4 linked regions of the Homo sapiens genome follow. The protein of the gene in region 3 interacts with the protein of the main gene of each other region in a pairwise test. Each region holds a gene or a part of one and is shown on either strand. Other genes may lie near its edges.

The links. The genes of interacting proteins can lie anywhere in the genome.
Region 1: the proteins of ASB3 (region 3) and MECP2 interact in binary tests that used the Homo sapiens proteins (3 or more experiments, as listed by UniProt).
Region 2: the proteins of ASB3 (region 3) and NDUFV2 interact in binary tests that used the Homo sapiens proteins (3 or more experiments, as listed by UniProt).
Region 4: the proteins of ASB3 (region 3) and SH2D2A interact in binary tests that used the Homo sapiens proteins (3 or more experiments, as listed by UniProt).

The regions. Positions count from the first base shown.
Region 1 is NC_000023.11:154,087,718-154,091,217, reverse strand, and holds part of MECP2 (methyl-CpG-binding protein 2), read left to right. Parts: intron 1-3,500. UniProt on the Homo sapiens protein: Chromosomal protein that binds to methylated DNA. It can bind specifically to a single methyl-CpG pair. It is not influenced by sequences flanking the methyl-CpGs.
Region 2 is NC_000018.10:9,130,199-9,133,698, reverse strand, and holds part of NDUFV2 (NADH dehydrogenase [ubiquinone] flavoprotein 2, mitochondrial precursor), read right to left. Parts: intron 1,477-3,500; exon of another isoform or gene 1,301-1,476; intron 309-1,300; exon of another isoform or gene 189-308; intron 1-188.
Region 3 is NC_000002.12:53,671,954-53,675,453, forward strand, and holds part of ASB3 (ankyrin repeat and SOCS box protein 3), read right to left. Parts: intron 1-3,500. UniProt on the Homo sapiens protein: Probable substrate-recognition component of a SCF-like ECS (Elongin-Cullin-SOCS-box protein) E3 ubiquitin-protein ligase complex which mediates the ubiquitination and subsequent proteasomal degradation of target proteins. Recognizes TNFRSF1B.
Region 4 is NC_000001.11:156,814,049-156,818,278, forward strand, and holds the start of SH2D2A (SH2 domain-containing protein 2A), read right to left. Parts: upstream 2,801-4,230; 5' UTR 2,661-2,800; coding exon 2,627-2,660; intron 2,410-2,626; exon of another isoform or gene 2,065-2,409; coding exon of another isoform or gene 2,047-2,064; coding exon 1,958-2,046; intron 1,791-1,957; coding exon of another isoform or gene 1,782-1,790; exon of another isoform or gene 1,702-1,781; intron 1,174-1,701; coding exon 989-1,173; intron 277-988; coding exon of another isoform or gene 247-276; coding exon 157-246; intron 1-156. UniProt on the Homo sapiens protein: Could be a T-cell-specific adapter protein involved in the control of T-cell activation. May play a role in the CD4-p56-LCK-dependent signal transduction pathway. Could also play an important role in normal and pathological angiogenesis.

The DNA.
Region 1 (3,500 bases), on a different chromosome or scaffold from region 3:
ACTGAGACCCTAAGTCGTTCTTTGTTGTCTCTCTAGTGGTTTCTGACACCTCAGTGTGAAGCTGTTGTAGACATCCATAAGAAATAGCCTGCTTAGGGATTATGTGAGGGCAAGGTTTGGCTGAAGGAGAATAGAAGGTGTGGAAGGAAGCGGAAGACCAGAAGAGCATCACACTGCCTCAAGTCCCAAATTTGATTCTGCTCCTGATCCTGTGACTCAAATTGTCATTCTCTTTTACTGCTGTGGGGTGTGCTCTGGGCCCAGCTGACAGGACATTCTTTGTACTCCACGTATTTATGCTGGTGGGAGTTGTATGGCTAGTGCTTTGTGCTTTGTCTCAGAAATTGTGTGGACTAAATGTAATATGGGCAGTGAATGGGTTTCTTCTGGAAGATGTTAGGCCTGGAGGGTGGTTTGGGTTTTTACGAGTCTTTTTCTCAGATTACAGATTACGAATGGATGTTATAAAACAGGCAGTGTTGACACCATACAGTTTCTCCTAAGAAATGTACAGAGAGTTCAACCTGAGGAAGCTAATTGAAAATAAACTTTTAAAAAGAAATGTAGAAAGAGGAAATTTAAAAAGTATCTTATGAATGGGAAAGATGTAGCCATTTGAGCTTCAAAGAACTTTTGAGGGAATTCTCAAAGGACAGTACCCGTCTTTAGTAGATAAATGCTTGATATCTATTTTTCTTCTTTTACTTTTTAAAGAATTACTAAAATAATACATGGATTTATAGAAAAATCAAACCACTTAAAAATTGATCAGGTGGCTGGGCAAGGTGGCTCATGCCTGTAATCACAGCGCTTTGGGAGGCCTAGGCGGGTGGATCACCTGAAGTCAGGAGTTCGAGACCAGCCTGGCTAACACGGCGAAACCCCATCTCTATTAAAAATACAAAAATTAGCTGGCCATGGTGGCTTGAGCGTGTAGTCCCAGCTACTCGGAAGGCTGAGGCAGGAGAATCACTTGAACCTGGGAGGCGGAGGTTGCAGTGAGCCAAGATCACACCACTGAACTCCTGCCTGGGTGACAGAGTGAGACTCGGTCTCAAAAAAAAAAAAAAAAAAAAGTATCAGGTAAAAAAATGAAAGCTCCCCGCTTAATCTCTGCTCCCACTACCCAGAATAACTGCTGTTAATAGCTTAATGTAGATCCTTCTAAGTCTTCTAAGACTAAACTGTGTACTTTTTGTGTTGTAATTAACAGGAGGGTTTTTGTTTTGTTTTGTTTTTTCTTTTTTTGAGATGGAGTCTTGCTCTGTCATCCAGGCTGGAGTACAGTGGCACAATCTTGGCTCACTGCAACCTCCACCTCCTGGGTTCAAGTGATTCTCCTGCCTCAGCCTCCTGAGTAGCTGGGATTACAGGCGCCTGCCACCACACCCAGCTAATTTTTGTATTTTTAGTAGAGATGGGTTTCACCATGTTGGCCAGGCTGGTGTCGAACTCCTGACCTCAGGCGATCCACCTGCCTTGGCCTCCCAAAGTGCTGGGATTACAGGCGTGAGCCACCGTGCCTGGCCTCAGGATGGTGTTATATATACATATTCTGCATTTTTCCATCTCATATATTCATCTCTGCCTCATTTCTTTTAAATAGCAGTGTAGTCCAGGGCTGACTTACCGTCATGCATTTCGTTGTCTCTCTATGTTATTAAAAATGCTACAGGATTGAAATTCCTCATGTGCCAGTCATTTTGAAGAATGGCTGCCTAGACTTGGAATTTCTGGTGGATACCACCACATCACTGTCCAAAATGGCTATCCCAGTTCCCACAACAGTCTGAGAAAGTGCCATTTTCCCATATCGTCCCAGAATTGGATATACATCTTTTAAATTGGTGCCGCTTGGATTATTACTGAGGCTAAACCTCAATAATCATTGTCATAGCTCTTAATGTATTAAAGATGTTAACTCTTTGTCATGCAGATATTTTCCTGTTTTGTCTTACGTCTTGATTCTTGTCTTTCTGATATATAAAATTTATGTTATGATTTATTCTTTTGCTTTCATACTTAGGAAATCCTTTTTTACTCTTTTTTTTTTTTTTTTTTTTTTTTTTGAGACGGAGTCTCGCTCTGTCGCCCAGGTTGGAGTGCAATGGCGTGATCTTGGCTCACTGCAAGCTCCATCTCCCGGGTTCATTCCATTCTCCTGCCTCAGCCTCCCGAGTAGCTGGGACTACAGGCGCCCGCCACCACGCCTGGCTAATTTTTTTGTATTTGTGAGACAGGGTTTCACCATGTTAGCCAGGCTGGTCTCGATCTCCTGACCTTGTGATCCGCCCGTCTCTGCCTCCCAAAGTGCTGGGATTACAGGCGTGAGCCACCGCGCCCCGCCAGGAAATCCTTTCCTACTCTTAACAACAGATCAATAGTCATCTATATTTTCTTCCTAAAAAACCTGATGATGTATTATATTCATACATACGTATTTAATACATACAAAAGGGCCAGATGCGGTGGCTCATGCCTGTAATCCCAGCACTTTGGGAGGCTGAGGCGGGTGGATCACCTGAGGTCAAGAGTTCAAGACCAGCCTGGCCAAGATGGTGAAATCCCGTCTCTACTAAAAATACAAAAATTAGCCAGGCGTGGTGGCGGGCACCTGTAATCTCAACTACTGGGGTGACTGAGGCAGGAGAATCGCTTGAACCCAGGAGGCAGAAGTTTCGGTGAGCCAAGATCACGCCACTGCACTCCTGCCTGGGCGATAGAGTGAGGCTCTGTCTCAAAAATAAAAAATAAAAATAATAATTTTATAGTTAAGTTGCCCTGTGTTTTTCCTGTGATTAAAAAAAAAAATACCTGTTTTGTATTTAACTTTGGGGTGGGATAAGGTATAGCCCACTTAGTCAGTTGTGTCTAAGCCACTTGATGAACCAGTCAATCCAGTCTTCACCTTTAACAAATGCTGATTTCTTCAAGTGAGCAAAATATCTCTTAAACTTTTTCCTATTTTCTCTATAAAGTTGCTTTTTTCTGAATTTTTTCTTTATGAGGCTTGATGGGCAGCCCTATCAGCAGACAATCATTCATTCACCCAACAAATATTTGAGTATCTGCTTCAAGCCAGGGGCAGTGCTAAGCCCTGGAAGTGGTATCTTCTCCTTATCCGGGAGTGGGGCTACAGTGTTCATTCCAGAAGACTCAAGAAAATAGCAGATCATCACAAAAGTAGGTTTTACATAAATGAGGAGGAATCCACAGGGTTGTGTATATGTGTGTGTATTTTAAATTCTGACATAAGTTGGAGCTTTAGGGTAGACTGTGACATAAGAGTAGTTTGTTTTCCAACTCATGTAATTGCCGGCTGATTTTTGTCTTGAATTATGATAATGGTAACTTCTGTTGAAACAATTCTGTATTCATCTTAGCTTGGTTGGGATGCAATAAAAGTTTTGTACTGGTAAAAATGATAATTTTCTTCCATGATGATTTTGAAGCTTTTCTGTAACACCTGATAAAAATAGAGGGGCCAGGCATGGTGGCTC
Region 2 (3,500 bases), on a different chromosome or scaffold from region 3:
CAGTCACAGTGAATAGAGGGAATACACACACTTATACATTGTATTTGGAAATAGAAACTGGATTCCTTGAGGAAATATGATTTGGGACAATGTCCCTTAGAAGCAGCGAAGTCAAAATCAGTTTGTATTTATGTATTATAAAGACTATATTAGTAGTAGTAATTTTCTGAAAAAAGTTTCCAAACCAGGATGGCCATAGCAGCCACAAAAGGAAGCAAACAAGAACAAGTCCTGATGGAGCAATTTATGAAGACAGGCAGCATAGAGGGAGAAGAACCTGTCTGTCAACCCCACACACGCTTTCCCAGGTAATTGCTCACCTCTGCCCTGTCTGACCTCTGTTTCTAGAGCCCAGCTCAGACTTACTGTATGTCACCCCTCCACCACTATTCCCTGGCTTTGCTAATTTACCTGTTCCTGCCACAGATTTACCTAAAGAAAGAACTTGTTCAGTTTATATCTTTTCAACCCCCTCTGGCTTTGCCCTTCACATTGTGTCATCAATCCTTTAAGTCTGTTCTTTAGAGCCCTAGGGAATCATTTTTTATTGGAGCCAGGAAAGTGACACCACATAATATAAGATCTTTCAAGATGTCACAGCATATAATACAAGTTACTAAGTAATGAACAATTATCTACAAAGTCAGAACTTAGTTAATATCTTTGGATTATAGGTCTTGTTCACTACAAAAACAGATAAAAAAGCAGTCATTGTATACTGTAAGAGCCTGAAACTTGTAGAGTAAGCAGCAAAATGATACTTAACTTTAAAAAAAAGACAACAGTATTATATTTTGCAATTTTTAAATTTATTTATTATTTTTGAGACAGGGTCCCACTTTGTCACCCAGGCTGGGATGCAGTGATGCAATAATGGCTCACTGCAGTCTTAACCTCCCAGGCTCAGGTGCTTCTGTCACCTCAGCCTCCCACGTAGCTGGGACTACAGGTGTGCGTCACCATGCCTGGCTAATTTTTGTATTTTTCGTAGAGACAAGACCTCACCATGTTGCCCTGGCTGGTCTTGAATTTGTGGGCTCAAACAATCTGTCCGCCTCAACCTCCCAAAGTGCTGGGATTACAGGTGAGCCACTGTGCCCGGCCTGTAATTTTTTATGTTGCCTATTGATAGGCACCACTGCTGCTCTTTAAATGTCAATGAAATTATTTTGGAGAAACTTTCTTCACCTTTACTAGGTTTCTTCTTACGGTTTAAGCTCAGCTACCTCTTCTTTTCTGCCTAAAACTTTTCTCTTGATCAAATATCAGAATGGAATATGATTTAAAAGTTTCATTTTAGACGTCTCCTGAAAGCTGAGCATTTGTTATCTTAAAGCCTCTTACCAGTTTGGATAGATATGGATCTTCCAAAATTAATGAGCTCCTTAATATCGACACTGTTTATCAACATAAAGGATCAATTTAGGAAGATTATAAAAACTGAAGTTTCCGGAACAATAAATGGGAGAATTAATCGTAAGTACTTCCTGAGTTCTTCACAGGATTATAGAATTTTATATATGGAAGTAATTTTAAAAATAATCTGGTCTAGAGTTTCCTAAAGTTTGTTCCATAAAATTACAATCCCATGGCATTGTATAGAAAAACGGGAGTCCCAGTGATCCAGTATGTCTGGCTGTAAACCTCCCTTCCTCGCCATTCACACAGTGTACCTTAAAATACTACAAAGGCTACAAAAATCCTCCAATAAAGCCTATAATTTTGTTTAATCTACTAAAAATGTAACCCCCCCTTTCATCTGTAAACATGCCTCAGAACACTCAAGAGGCAGTGAGCTAGCCCTATCCACTCACCTGACAGCCACAATTTACACTAGTGTTTTTCACTTACTAAACAAAAAATGATTTTCCTGATATCTCATGCTTAAAATGCCATCTAATAATTACATCTTCACTAAAATTTAAAAAGTATGGTTCGTCAGTCATTCCAACACTATACGTATGTGTACCATTTTAACTTATTTGCTTTCTAGAAAACTTGGCCTTTCTGTAAACTTTCATGGCTTAAAGTACTTTACATAGACAAATTACTTTATAAAAGTTTAGTGCTTTTTACTATTGCTGAGATATATCCAGCACTGTCCCTACTTTTAGTATAAAAAACCAAAAGTGATGTTATTGTCTAGAGTCATCTACCAACCGCATTGGAACTGTAGCCTAGCTCTAAATATGAAGAATTAAAGTTGGATTTAAAATGAGTTATAAACTAATCCATACTAAAAAATTTCTACCTATTAGTAACCTGAAAACAAGTTTAGAATTTTTCAGTACTTTAAATTCACTGAAAATAAGAACAATCTCAGCACAAAAATATTTAGTAATGTCAAGATTAAGAGACTACAGCTGACCCTGAACAACACAGGTTTGAACTGCATGGGTTCACTTGTACATGGATTTTCTTCAGCCTCTGCCACCTCTGAGACAGCAAGGCCAACCCCTCCTCTTCCTCAGCCTATACAACATGAAAATGATAAGACTTGTACTATGATCCACTTAATGAAGAGTAAATATATTTTCATTATGATTTTAATAACATTTTCTTTTCTCTAGATTATGGTAAGAATACAGTCAGTATATAATACAGACAACATGCAAAATATGTGCTGACTATGTTATTTGTTAAGGCCTTCAGACAACTGCAGGCTATGAGTAAAGTTTTGGAGGAGTCAAAAGTTACACACAGATCTTCAACTGCATGAGCAATCAATGTCCCTAACGCCCATGGTGTTCAAGAGTCAACTGTATTATCTTACCACTGCTTTAATATTTTCAGTGGTCATTCACCAACGATAATACAAAAGCAGTTTTGAACCACATATAGACATCAGTCTTTTACTAATTTTGGCCAGGGTAAGACCTGGCAGTGGTACTCAGGAATCAGTTACTATTGAACCAGTTTAATTCCTCTCGGTTTTTCATTACAGAGACGCACAATTAGTACCTCTTTCAAAGAGCAGAGATATTTATTATTAAAATACCAATAAAAAAGAATTAGACAGCTTTGGTTAATTTAGAATAACTATAACTATATTATGGTTATTGCTATCCCAGTCTCTGTCATTATCCTATATATCCAAGATATTGGGTAAGTAAAGTGAAAAGTTCTTGTTTTCATATGCTGACAAGACATTCTAGTATTGCTATGTCCAAATACAAGCTTTATATAATACAGCATTGGTGGATGCTTGCAATTATTGAAACCTAAGTAGACTTTTGTCTGCTTTTTAAATAAGAGGTAGTAAGTAAAAAAAGAGATTCGGACACGAATAATTTTGAAGTATTTGGCTCAAATCCAGAACACTGTCAAGAAAATCTCAGCGAAAAACTATTCATGATTACTGATAAGTAACATCCCTATTATTATCAGATGTTGTTGAAAATGCTTAACTGAGTACTTAGTTCCTGCTTATTGTTAAAATACAATGTTATAGTACCTCATATTACAAATAACAGATTTTAATTTCACCCCGATAATGTCAT
Region 3 (3,500 bases):
TCAAGAGCACAGCTGATACCAGACCAGCTAGTCTGATTCCAGGTATAGGGTTCTTTAAACTCTAATACCCATAGGGCTTGAGACCAATTAATTCTCTAACATCTTCAATATCTTCCAAGCCATAGAAGTTAACTCATCATCGTTTTTAGTTTACTAGTTTAGGTTTAGTTTAGTTTATTCAGAATTAAAGAAATCACTCAAACTGGTGTTTCAAAATGCCAAATAAGAAAGCAAAAGTTATCGATTTTGTACATAAAACCTAAGTCTAAGCTGGGCATTTTCTTAAATCATGAGTCATAGATTCCCTATTATAAATAATAAGATTACAGTATCTATAGTATATAGCACGCACATTTATTTCTAACTTTTTTCATATCCATATCTTACTTAAATTTGACACTTTTCTGTAAACTTAAAGGAGAAATGATGGTTCTCACATGAAAGATGGGAAGACACAGGTAAAGGGGCCACTGGAGGAAGTTGCAGGAATACATATGGAAAGCAGGCCCAAGCTGCAAACACCACCGTTTTCCAAAGGTTTAAGTAGATTGACTATGTTCAACTATCAAGTATAAGGAAGCCCTCTTAGTAGGATCATGAACAATAATTGGTCAGTTAATAGAAACTCACCTTAAAGCAGGTGACCACAACAACCATACATACTTTAAACATTCTAATTTAAAATGGATACATGAACACATCTAGAATGCAACATCTATGGCTTGCAGTTTATTTATGTATTTTTTACTCACCACTATATAAATAAGGACACAGTTTCACTTTCTTTGAGTTACAGCATGGATTTAAAGGCATGTATGAAACAAGGTGAGTGCATAATCCTTCCATATTTTTACAGGTTTTTTTGCTTTCAGTTGTTGTAGCCACGTCTAATTCAATATCTATTTCTGTTCTGTGCTTATCTTTATCAAGTCTTTTGCATTCTACTTTGCCTTAACAGCAACAATGATTCTCTTTTCACACTCATAATTCATTAGCTTGTGCAATCTGGAATTATTTAACTCCAATAATATGCACAACGTAATAAAAAGTTTCAGAAATAAGCATAACTGCTGTTTGGTAAGCACACACCTCTGCTGGTAGGAACACTGGCATTCTAGAGTGTAGCTGGCCAGCTGCAAACACAGAGCATGCCAATGGACATAGTCAGATGGAAATGAAAGAGAAAATGACAAGACTGTTTAATCCAGTGTGTGTTTTTAAAGAGAATTTCTACTTATATTCAGTTAGAGTTTAACAGGCATCTGTTAAATTGAATCTCTTCATTCTGCACATTCTTAGGAACATGAATACTTACTACACAACCAGAAGGAAGATAAAGGATGGCTGTGCAACCCGGAGGAGAGCTGCTCACATGGAGATAAGGGATCCTTAATGATGCTCCAGCTTCTCAGAGTGGACAGACTACACTGGCTTAAAATTCTATGGGCTGACTGGGAAGATTCCTCCAGATACCCTAAAACTTAATGTAGTGCTGACCAGCTTTTCTAGATTATGTGACTACATCACTGGAGGTCTATCTTTAAAGCTTAATAAATCATTTGTTTATGCTAATTATGTGTAGAAGCTTAACCATTAGTGATCAAGCCACACTAGACCAGTTCGCATTTGTTAGGAGAAGCGTAACTGACTTGCCCACTGAGATGTGGCACATCAACAACATAGCTGTTGTTAACTAGATCTCAATGATTTGACTCCCAGTCCAGGGTTCTTTAAACTATGATAAGCTCAATATAATTCTCCAACATCTTCTAAACCACTGAAACTATCATAAATTTCAGAATATCTTTCCATTTAATAATAAAAAAGGAAAAGTATAGCTACTTCAGGTATTGGTTCAAATTTTAATTGCACCATTTTGGTTTTCCTTCTAAGAGCACAACAGATCACTGGCCTAATGAACAATTAGAGGTAAGAACTATGTTCAGCTGAACTGAGGGAGTGTTTCATGTGTAGATTATTAACACAGACAATAATATGCCTGTCAGTGCCATTTTTGTTTAATATGCCAGTAAATACTAAGGGAATTTTATAACCATATATGCAATATTTCAAAGCACACAAAATCCCTATGAAAGTTTTAGTGATGCATAGTTATTTCCAGACGTGTTGCCACTAGGCTAGAAGATCAAGCCATGCCTTGAATTTATAATACGAAAAAGGCCACAGAAGCTGTATGTAAAACATACTTTCATGAAAACCTATTAAAACTATATTTTAGTTTTGTTAAATACATCTCCATGTTCTTGGATTATGGCAGTGATTGTAACCTAGAAAATGACGTCTGAAACCATGCTACACTTCTAAGTCACTTTTCTGACCCAATCATTTTTATTCAATATGTTAAACTTAGTTTATCCATAGATCTATTAGCAGATGAGTAATATTTAACTTTTAATTCCTATACAGAATTCCTCTATTTTGTTCATTTTGTTATATGTACTGGCAGAACAATCAAAATAGAAGACTACATGTTGTTATACAAAGTTTTGTTAAAATCAAAAGCACACACAATGATCAAAATAAACGTCACAATTCTTAATTCATTATGCTTATAAATGCCAACTTTACTATAGCACAAAACTATATCTATATCATACACACCCACTATATTTTCTACATTCATCTTTAGCCTTCCCTCAGGCCAATGTTCAAACAACCTATCTGCCTGAACTACATTTCTCTGGTTCCTTTGAAATGTTTTGCACATCAAATGCATTTATCTGACTTCTGAGACACCTACTACCATTTTTATTTTCATCATTAATATATTGTCTTTCTCGTTGGTATCCATCCTTTTGTTCCCAGTTTTTCTTAATTTACTTGTGTTGTCTCTCTCATTGACTATAACTAAAACCGCTAGAAAAAACACAAAAAGCAAGTACCTGAGAACTCTGAAAAACAAGTAATAGATTAGGACATGAAGTCAAAACAATAGGAATGGCCAGTATAAAGGAATGACCAGTAGAGGCAATGAATGGATTAAATGGAAAAGCACCATCTAGTAGTAACACCTGTGCTGGCGCTGAGGTGCCACTATTAACTAGCTGTGTGACCCTGGGCAAGTCATCTAAATATTCTGACTTTCAGTTACCTTTCCATAAAATGAGAATAATGCCTCATCTACAAAATGGGCATAATGACACTTCCCTGCATCAAAAGGCTGTTGATGATGTTCAAGTTGGAACACATTTGCAAAAGCATTTCATAAAGTGAAACACCACACAAATCCCAGGCACCACAGAATCTAGTGATCTCCAAATGTTTTGATTACACACTAAATTAGTAAAGTCTCTGACCACAGAATCCAATATATATTTTACATATAAATTACATGTATACTATTAACCAAACATTATTTGTACTATAAAATAAAATAAGCCAATATAAAATAAGATATATACTTTAAATAATTTCATTTTTAAAGGTATAAGACTCCTTTAAATATTAATATTTTAACAAGAACAAGGTGATTGACTAGG
Region 4 (4,230 bases), on a different chromosome or scaffold from region 3:
CCGCTCCTCGGCCAGGGTCACCAGCGAGAGGCGTGATCCCCACCTTCAGCAGCCCGGGGAATGAGCTAAGAGCCCGGCTCCTCACGGGATCAGACCCAAGCCCCGCCCCTCCCGAGCCCCGCCTTGTGTCGCCCGGCGCGGGGCCTCGCCCCTCACCTGTAAGTCAGCACGAAGGTCACCGCGCTCTCGCTGAACCGCACCAAGTAGCACCCCTGAGGCTTGGGCTCCAGCAGCCTCTCTGCCTCCCTGTGGGTGACGGAGAGAGGGGGCCGAACCCTGCTCTGACACTTCCAGCCTCGCCTCTGTCTCCCCGGCTCTCACGAGGAACCCCTACCCCCAAGCAAGCATGCTGGAGCGGCTAGAGAAAGGCTAGGGCGGAGATGGGGAGAGAGAGCACGTGGGCGCTGCTCTCCCGCTGCAGGGATTAGGCGTGGACAGGGGCCAGGGGTCCCATTCAGGAGACCCCCGCATCCTCCCCTGGCCTCATCCTGAAAGGGCAGCCTGCAGGGGCTGCTACTGCAGCTACAGGGATGGGAAAGTAGTTGGACTTCCAGATTTCAGAAGTCAAAGCTGAACTGAGGAGGTGAACAAAGAGTTAGGGAGAAATGAGGCTGAGAAATGGAGGAGGGAGATTCTGCAAGGGTGGAAGAAGAGAGGGCTGGGAGATAAAGATGGAGTAAGCCTGGAGGGAGAGAGAGGTGGAAAATACCAGCATTCGAGGCCTTAGGGACAGGAGGATAATGGGGCCTAGAGAGGGGAAGCTGAGGTACACAGAGGGCTGGACTGGAGCCTCTCCAATGATCTCCCCTGGAGAGATGCCTCAGTGAAAGGCTAGGAAAACTCTGGGAGTGGGAGCCTGGAGTGGGCGCCTCCATCTACTCCAGACTGGTAGAAGTGGGAGCCTTCATCTATTCCTGGCAGGTGGCAGGACCCAGACCCAGGACTTGCCCTGCCCCTGTCTGGGCCAATTTCCTCCTCCATGACTCACCTCCGGGTGATGAAGCCATGGAACCAGGCAGGGGCTGCCCCGTGCTGCAGGAGCCAGTGGGCCTGGGTCTTCTGGAACCAAGCCCGGGTCTCGGCCTGCAGGAACAGGCTTCCTTCTCCAGGCACCTCCTCTGCCCTCTCAGCATTCCCTGTGTTGGAGGCAGCCTCCGGGGCCTGGGGAGATGCCTGGATCAGGGAAGAGTTCAAGGAGGGGGAAGCAGCATGATGAGTGGGCCTTCTCCTGACTTTGATCCACCTGCCACCTTCTTTTCCTCATACCCAGCCTCTCCTGTCTATTTTAGGGTACAATTGCCCAGAAAGTCCTTCCTAAAGTCTAACTTAAATCCCTTCTTCAGCTCCAGCTGTTCTGGCTTCCAGAGACTCTCCTTCCTTTGCCCTCTGGGTCCTGAGGGCTTTTAATCCAGCAGCAGTGAGCTGTCACACTGTGCTCTAGGAGGGGCGGGAAAGGCAGCACAGCCTTCCAGATGGACAGAGTCATTCCCTGGCCTGGAGGATGAAGAAACATGATGCAGGAAGTCACCCTAGAGGCCAGAATGAGGGAGGGCTTACTTCATAATATGAGGGACTGACCTAGTTCGCAGGGAAAATTATTGACTGGGCAGGAGAGAAGGACTGAGACGGGAATGTGGAATGCACTGGGCAAATGGTCACTGACACAGAGTGCAGATGCCTGCTTCTGGGACTCAATGCACTGCACCCTGGTCATCTGCGGACTCAGCCTGAGCTTCCAGAGGGCCTAGGAGCAGTAAGGGAGTGAGTGGGCAACTCGGCGCATGAAGGAGGTACTCCTCATTTTCGTTCTCTCTCTCTGTGCCCCAGCCCGTTGGCAGACCCGGATCATTCCTGCCTTCTCTTGGAGTGGCCTTTGTCCATCTGCAAGTCCTTCCCCATGGGAGGGTGGGAGAGATGAGGGAGCTGCACCACGCTGCCGCCCCAGGTTTCCACTCACCGCAGTGTAGCCCAGGTTCTGGCAGCTCCTGCGGGTCATGTCTGTGATCTGGAAGGTGCTGAAGGTTGGGATGGGGGCTTCGTGACTCCCTGTGAGCACAAAGAGGGCTGCCGGGGTTTCTCAGAGAGGAACTATGTCTGTCTCTGCCTCCCACCCCTCCTCCCAGGCTCAGGGGATCTGGAGGGCTGGGACAGTCTTAACGACAGGAAAAACGCAGAAGGGCAGCAGGGGAGTTTCTCAGGCATGAGGTTAAGTAGCCAAGGCGGCATGGGGGGCTAATGCTGCCAGAGGAGGTTGTGAGGGACACCAGGTGCCTAGAAGGAGAGGCTGGGAGTCAGGCTGGCCTTCGGATGGTCAGGGAGGCAGATCACTTCAGGGCAGGCCCTTCTTCTGGTCCAGGATCTTCTGCCTCCTTCTCCCTTCATCCTCCTGCTCCCTCCTCTCTCCTCTCTGAGAAGCCCTCAACAAACCCTGTCACCTTTATCCTCAGGGATGAGTGGGCATGGAGCCCCAGGCAGGGTTGTGGTCACCCTGCCAATCAGCTTTGCCAGCTCTGGCTTAGGGTGGGGCCCCTCATCCCTGAAGTGGGAGCTCAAGCCCAGGAGGGAGGGCAGGGGGATGGGGGTCTTTGTGCCCCCTCCCACCCATATCCTTCAACTTCACACTTACCTTGGGGACATATCTGGGCCAGGGGGAACTCCATGAGGGCAGCCTCACAAGGGATCCCAGAGCAGGGTGTGTGTATGTGTTCCGGAAAGGTGTGCACACTCAGCAACTCATCATCTCTCCTCTCACCCTGGCCCCGGGGGCAGGAAATGTCGCCTTACCCACAGCCTTAGTTCTGGCGAGGACTCACGTCATGGAAAGCCTTAAGACGATTGTCCCACCCCCGGAAGCCACGCAGCTGTAGATAGCGGTGGTATAGCGGTGGGGGGTATCTGTGTCACTCTGTGTTTAGGTGTTAGGAAGCCCTTACTGCTGCCTGACCTTCATCCCTCCAGATTCTTTCTCTGCCCCCTCACCCCAAACTAGAACTTCCCTTTCTCTCTCTCTCTCTCTCTCTCTCTCTCATCTCTCTTGGCTTCTATTTCTTTCTCTCTGGAAAATCTCCCACTCTGCCTCTTGGCCTGTTCTGAGCAGTGGGAATGGGGATGTCAACCTCAAGGATAAGCCACACAAGGTGCTTATGGATCATGCTTTGAGGAGACATGAGGAAGGGAGGGGGCAGGGCTGCAACAGGAAGGATGTGGGTCAGACTTCTGGAAGGACTTTTTGAGGACATGTGAAATCTATGAGTCTGGGCATGGTGGCTCATGCTTGTAATCCCAGTACTTTGGGAGGCTCAGGCGAGAGAATCGCTTGAGCCCAGGAGTTCATGATCAGCCCTGGGTAACATAGTGAGAGCCCATCACTATTTTTAAAATAATAATAATAATAGTAATAATAATAAAGAAATCTATAAGACAAGGGGTTAGAGAGGAGGGGGCCTGGCTTCCATCATTCAGCAGATAATGGAGCTGAGTTAGGGCAAAACCAGGCAATATTGGAGGAAGGAAAGAGAATTCCTCCAGCTAAGCAGGTCATCATTAGTATCAACACTATCAGCAGTTGTCATTAATAACATCAGTGTTGACATCTTTTTTTTTTTTTTTTTTGAGACAGAGTCTAGCTCTGTCACCCAGGCTGGACTGCAGTGGCACAATCTCAGCTCACTGCAACTTCCGCCTCCCAGGTTCAAGGGATTCTTGTGCCTCAGCCTCCCGAGTAGCTGGGATTACAGGCTTGTACCACCATGCCTGGCTAATTTTTGTATTTTTAGTAGAGACAGGGTTTCACCGTGTTGGCCAGGCTGGTCTTGAACTCCTGGCGTCAAGTGATCCACCCACCTCGGCCTCCCAAAGTGTTGGGATTACAGGCGTGAGCCACTGCACTGGCCAGTGTTAATGTCTTAAACTTTCAATGTGCTTAGACTTCCCACCATACCAAAGGACCAATCCCATTTCTCTCTGAATTTATCTTCACAAACTAAGAAGGGGACAGGAACATTATCCCCATTTACCAGAAGCTCAGAGGAGTGCCTTGGCCAGGGTCTTTCAGTGTCTGAGAAGTTGGTGTGAGTGCTGGGACTAGAAGGTAGACTTCCTTTCACTAATTTCACTGTGATTTAGGCCAAAGGTTCATGACTATGTGCTATGCACTGTTCTTGGTACTGAGAACCCAGAGAGGAAAAAAAAAACTTTGTTTCAAGATGTCAGATGGGGGAGATGGACTTG